2 separate regions of the Homo sapiens genome follow, and region 1 is linked to region 2. Evidence: fine-mapped expression QTL. A gene starts in region 2. The other region holds a variant in brackets. All regions are shown on one strand. Distances are between the middles of the regions.

Region 1 (3,013 bases), 29 kb after region 2:
ACAGCTGTAATCCCAGCACTTTGGGAGGCCGAGGCGGGCGGATCACCTGAGGTCAGGAGTTCGAGACCAGCCTGGCTAACATGGTGAACCCCCGTCTCTACTAAAAATACAAAAATTAGCCAGGCATGGTGGTCCAGGCGCCTGTAGTCTCAGCTACTTGGGAGGCTGAGGCAGGAGAATTGCTTGAACCTGGGGGGCAGAGGTTGCAGTGAGCTGAGATCACGCCATTGTACTCCAGCCTGGGAGACAGGAATGAAACTCTATCTCAAAAAAAAACAAAAAAACAAAAAAAGAACCTGGCCGGGTGCGATGGCTCACGCCTGTAATTCCAGCACTTTGGGAGGCCGAGGCAGGCAGATCAGGGGATCGGGAGATTGAGACCATCCTGGCTAATACGATGAAACCCTGTCTCTACTAAAAATACAAAAAATTAGCTGGGCGTGGTGGCGGGCACCTGTAGTCCCAGCTACTCAGGAGGCTGAGGCAGGAGAATGGCATGAACCCGGGAGGCAGAGCTTGCAGTGAGCCGAGATCGTGCCACTGCACTCCAACCTGGGCAACAAAGCGACAGAGCAAGATTCCATCTCCAAAAAAAAAAGAACCTTTGCTGAAACAATGGGGGATGATAATAAAACCAACCCAGAGGAAAACAGCCAAGAGACCATTTCCTGGTGACATGGTTCGGGTCCTTAGATCCAGCTGTGCCTGAAGCTTGAGTTATCCTAAAATTTGTCTGAGATAAGCCATTACGTCTCCTCATTTACGTCAGCCGGTTTGAATTTGGTTTCTGTTACTTGCTACCAAAAGAGTACTGACTAATTCAGAAAGCTTAAACAATCTATTTGAATTCAGACAGCTAATAAATGACAAAGAGGGGCCTGGAAGACAGATTTTATGTTTCTGATCCTGTGCTCTTAGATGAAGTGTAATGGCCAGAGTGAAGGTGGGGTGGAAGAGGCAGTGAGGAGAACGCCAAGGCCAGTGTGATGGGGCCTGACTGAAAAACAGGCTAGGGAAGCTAGAATAGGAAACAGGGAGTCACCAAAGGTGCTTGAACACTTCGTGGGTTTTTTTTTTTTCTTTTTTTTTTAGAGATGGGGTTTCGCCATGTTGCCCAGGCAAGTCTCAGACTCCTGAGCTTAAGGGACCTGCCTGCCTTGGCCTCCCAAAGTGCTGGGATTACAGGTGTGAGTCACCACGCCTGGCCATGCTTGAACAATTTAAATGAGACATTTAAAGAAGATAATGAGTACTTCTGTTTCTTTTTTCTTTCTTTTTTTTTGTTTTTGAGACAGAGTCTCACTCTGTCACCCAGGCTGGAGTGCAGTGGCACGATCTCGGCTCATTGCAACCTCTGCCTCCTGGGTTCAAGTGATTCTTCTGCCTCAGTCTCCTAAGTAGCTGGGACTGCAGGCGCGTGCTACTACGCTTGGCTGATTTTTGTGCTTTTAGTAGAGATGGGGTTTCACCATATTGGCGAGGCTGGTCTCGAATTCCTGGCTTCATGATCCACCCGCCT[T/C]AGCCTCCTAAAGTTCTGGGATTACAGGCGTGAGCCACCATGCCCAGCCCTTTTTTTTTGAGACGTAGTCTTGCTCTGTCACTCACTGCCTCCCAGGTTCAAGTGATTCTTCTGCCTCAGACTCCTGAATAGCTGGGACTACAGGCACGTGCCACCACGCCCAGCTAATTTTTTGTATTTTTTTAGTAGAGACGGGGGTTCACCATGTTGCTCAGGCTGGTCTTGAACTCCTGACCTTGTGATCCACCTGCCTTGGCCTCCCAAACTGCTGGGATTACAGGAGTGAGCCACTGCGCCCAGCCTTGTGTTCTGTTTCTTAACATGGGGGATGGTTTTAGCTCCCCACATACATTCATTCTAAATTATGCTGATATGTTTTGTATGTACTTCTGAATACATACATGATGTAATTCATCATTTTTTTTTTTTTTGAGACAGAGTTTCATTCTGTCACGCAGGCTGGAGCGCAATGATGTGATCCTGGCTCACTGGAACCTCCATATCCCTGGCTCAAGCAATCCTCCCACCTCAGTCTCCTGAGTAGATGGGACTACAGCTGTAACCACACCCAGTTAACTTTTGTATATGTATATATTTTTTGGTAGAGATGAGGTTTCGCCATGTTGCCCAGGCTAGTCCACCTCAGCCTCCCAAAGTCCTGGGATTACAGGCATGAGCCACTGCGCCCAACCATTCATATTATTATTATTATTATTATTGTTATTATTATTATTAATTTAATTAAATTAATTAATTTACTTATTTATTGAGACGGAGTCTCACTCTGTCGCCAGGCTGGAGTGCAGTGGCGCAATCTCAGCTCAGTGCAACCTCCACCTCCTGGGTTCAAGTGATTCTCCTGCTTCAGCCTCCTGAATAGCTGGGACTACAGGCACCCGCCACCACGCCCGGCTAATTTTTGTATCTGTAATAGAGACGGGGTTTCACCATGTTGGCCAGGATAGTCTCAATCTCTTGACCTCGTGATCCACCCACCTCGGCCTCCCAAAGCGCTGGGATTACAGGCGCGAGCCACCGCGCCCAGCCATTTATATTTTTTTGAGACAGAGTTGTGCTCTTGTTGCCCAGGCTGGAGTGCAATGGCACGATCTTGGCTCACTGCAACCTCCGCCTGCCAGGTTCAAGCGATTCTCCTGCTTCAGCCTTCCGAGTAGCTGGGATTACAGGCATGCACCACCCCGCCTGGCTAATTTTTGCAACTTTAGTAGAGACAGGGTTTCACCATGTTAGCCAGACTGGTCTTGAACTCCTGACCTCAGGCAATCTGCATACCTCGGCCTTCCAAAGCACGGGGATTACAGGGGTGAGCCACCGCGCCCGGCCTATTATTATTTTTTTACCCTTATACATAGGTAGGGTTGGTTGGTTGTCGTTTATAATTTTTAAAAATAAAAAAGAAAATAAATGATGTAGTGGTGGTGATCTGCTGAATGGGATGGAGAAGAGAGACCCTGGAGTCAGATGTGGAAAGGA
Region 2 (2,500 bases):
CACTTAAATTTTCTAACCAGATTCAAAAGGGACTTTCCTAGAGCCTTCCCTTTTCCTTTCCTAAACGGGAAATTCGATTAAAAAGGTCACTCTTTAGCTCTTACTTCCACACTAAGTAATTCTGAAACATGGTGAAAGTGCATTATAAGTCCATAGGGCTATGACTGGCAAAATACTTTCCTGTAAATACTAGAGTCAAATAAAATAGAAGAGAGAGCTTGACTTCACTCCGTTGGGTTTGAGGACAGAAACTGATCATCTCCCTCAGATTACTGCTTCTGTTGATGTCTCGAAAAGCACTGAGGCAAATATGCCAGAGTCCCACCCCAAGCGCGAAGAGCCTCCGATTGTTTGACACATCAATGGATTAGTGAATGAGGGCAACTCACTCTTCCCTTCTAATTTACCTTAATTATTCTTCTCAGAAACCCTCAAGTTTACTCTAAGTTATCACCATATGGAATCTTTTCTTTGCCCCAAAGTATAAATTCAGGCCTTTCCCAAATAGCTAGTACTGCTTCAATCGCAACCACTGAAATAAATACCTTAAAAATATCACACATCTACTAATTCCACGCAAATGTGGAAAAAGCCAGTCCAGTCGCCTGAAGAAATAAGGTTCTGGAACATGGTTAAATGATGCATATTTTGTAACAGAAGGCACTGAGCATAGTGGGAGACTCGAAAGCAAAAGACCGGATGGAAATCATGGGAAGACCCCGCCCCAGTAAGCTCGATGCCGATTCAAACAGTAACTTGGATGTGTCGTTTGGAATCGGAATCACTGAAACAAAGGCGTATATTACGGGAAGCAAGATGTCTGGAGTAAAATAAACGGTATGCAGCTACCGAGACCGTACACCGTCCTCCCACAGGTCTTACCTATGGTGGAAATAAAGGTAGTATTGAAGGCATCATCCGAAAAACGAAAAAGGACGCAGGTCTTCCCCACTCCGGAATCCCCGATCAGGAGCAGCTTGAAAAGCAGGTCGTACGTCTTCTTCGCCATTGGGAGGAGCGGCTCGGGCTCTCGCCGCCGGCGGCCCCAAGGGATCGGTCCCTCTCACTACGGCCAACTCCTCACTCGGGCGTTCTCAGGCCGGAGGACCGGGGAAGCGTGGGAAAAAGGCTCGAGACGGCGCGGGCGACCTACGAACAGCTTTGAGGAAGCCCCGACAGTGGCGGCGTCCAGTGCCTCCGAGGGCGGCGACCGCGGCTCCGCAGCCTCTCCCAGCCCGTCCGCCCGGTTCCGGGGAGTCGGTCGGGACAAAATGGCCTCCCCTCCCCCCTCAGGGCTTCTCGGCCGGGACGCTCCCACGGGCGAGCAAGCCTGCTCTGCCGTCGAGGAGGCGCAGCGGGCGTGAGGACAGTCTCTCTCCCGAGCGGAAACTCCCTGCTAGCACGCGGCGAGGGCAGCGAAGAAGGACCCCTAAGTCGACGAGCTCAGTTACATAGCCCCAGGAAACCGAGCCACCCCGGCCAGAGCCACCTTTTCCCCGTGCCCTCTCACGCCGGCGTGCGCGCTGCCTGAGACGCACGCAAGGGCGTACGCCCGCCCTTCCCTCACGCCCTAGCCTTGCGGTCCGCCTCTGCGCACGCGCACAAGAGGGCATGGGGGCGCGCCGAAGTGGCGAGTGGAATGCTCCTGTCTCCAAGCCTCAGTCTGAGGCTGGACCCAGAGGGGAGAAGGGAGGGGCGAGAAAGGGCGAGGCCGCGGGCGCGCTCCCTGTGGCCGCCTGATAGGGTGCGCGGCGTTACGAGCACGCCCCGGGGGAGACGCTACCTAGCGACTGCGCAGGCGCAGCGCCCCCCCTCCGACCCCCGCCTCCCGCCTCCCGCTCCCCGCTCCCCGGGACACCCTTACAGAGCCCAGCACCTCCTTCCCCTCCCGGGGTCTCCCGCTGGACTGCGCTGCGGTTTCTCTGCACAGCGCTTGTCGGGTGTGTTGAGCTGGAGGTCTTGGCGCAGCGACGGGCTTGGGTGGCCATGTGTTCCCGTGTAGGTGGAGCTCGTAAACGCGAGAAAAAGCCGCGCCCTGGGTCATTTAATAGCCTCTTTGCTAGAACGAGACGCCTCCCGGCGTGCCCCCTCTCCAGGGCCAGCCCTGACGGGGAAACATGAGCGCTCCATCCGGATTGACTTCAAGAGCAAGAGTTTGAGATGGAAAAGCTGGCCACGCCGCTCGGGTTGGGATGAGGTAATCCTCACAACCTCTTCCTGGGCGAGGAGAGGAAGGTTGAGGAACACCTGGGCGCAGGAAGAACCTCCCTGCGAAGTGGAGGGTTCTGTGCGGTGCTCAGAGAACCTGCTTCAGGCCTTTGCCGTCCTTCAGGAATCCGGGAGAACCCGAGAGCGCTCTGCAGAGGAGGTGGGGCCTCTGCCTGCCGCCAGCGTCGTACCACTGGGTTGAAAATTGAAAGGTGGTCAAGCCTACTCCCAGTCCGACACAGCCTGCTTCCTCGCATTTTCTTTTTCTTTTTTTCTTTTCTTTCTTTTTTTT

The links. PIP is the estimated chance that this variant, and not a neighbour inherited with it, causes the effect. A credible set is the group of variants that fine-mapping cannot tell apart.
Region 1: its variant is the best candidate, but not a certain one, in a credible set for the expression of RAB10 in whole blood (INTERVAL, PIP 0.51).

The regions. Positions count from the first base shown.
Region 1 is chr2:26,003,515-26,006,527 of GRCh38, reverse strand. No RefSeq gene overlaps it. Among named protein-coding and RNA genes, the nearest start is that of KIF3C, 23 kb to the right of the region's middle. The variant T/C (reference allele first, on the strand shown) is at 1,520.
Region 2 is chr2:26,033,118-26,035,617 of GRCh38, reverse strand. It overlaps RAB10 (RAB10, member RAS oncogene family), which reads right to left and starts at 1,534. Exons shown (of 6, transcript NM_016131.5): 1 at 883-1,534. The coding sequence starts at 1,009. It overlaps LOC124907743 (a long non-coding RNA gene), which reads left to right and starts at 1,869. Exons shown (of 2, transcript XR_007086249.1): 1 at 1,869-1,940. RefSeq lists an enhancer at 1,279-1,328 and a silencer at 1,639-1,868.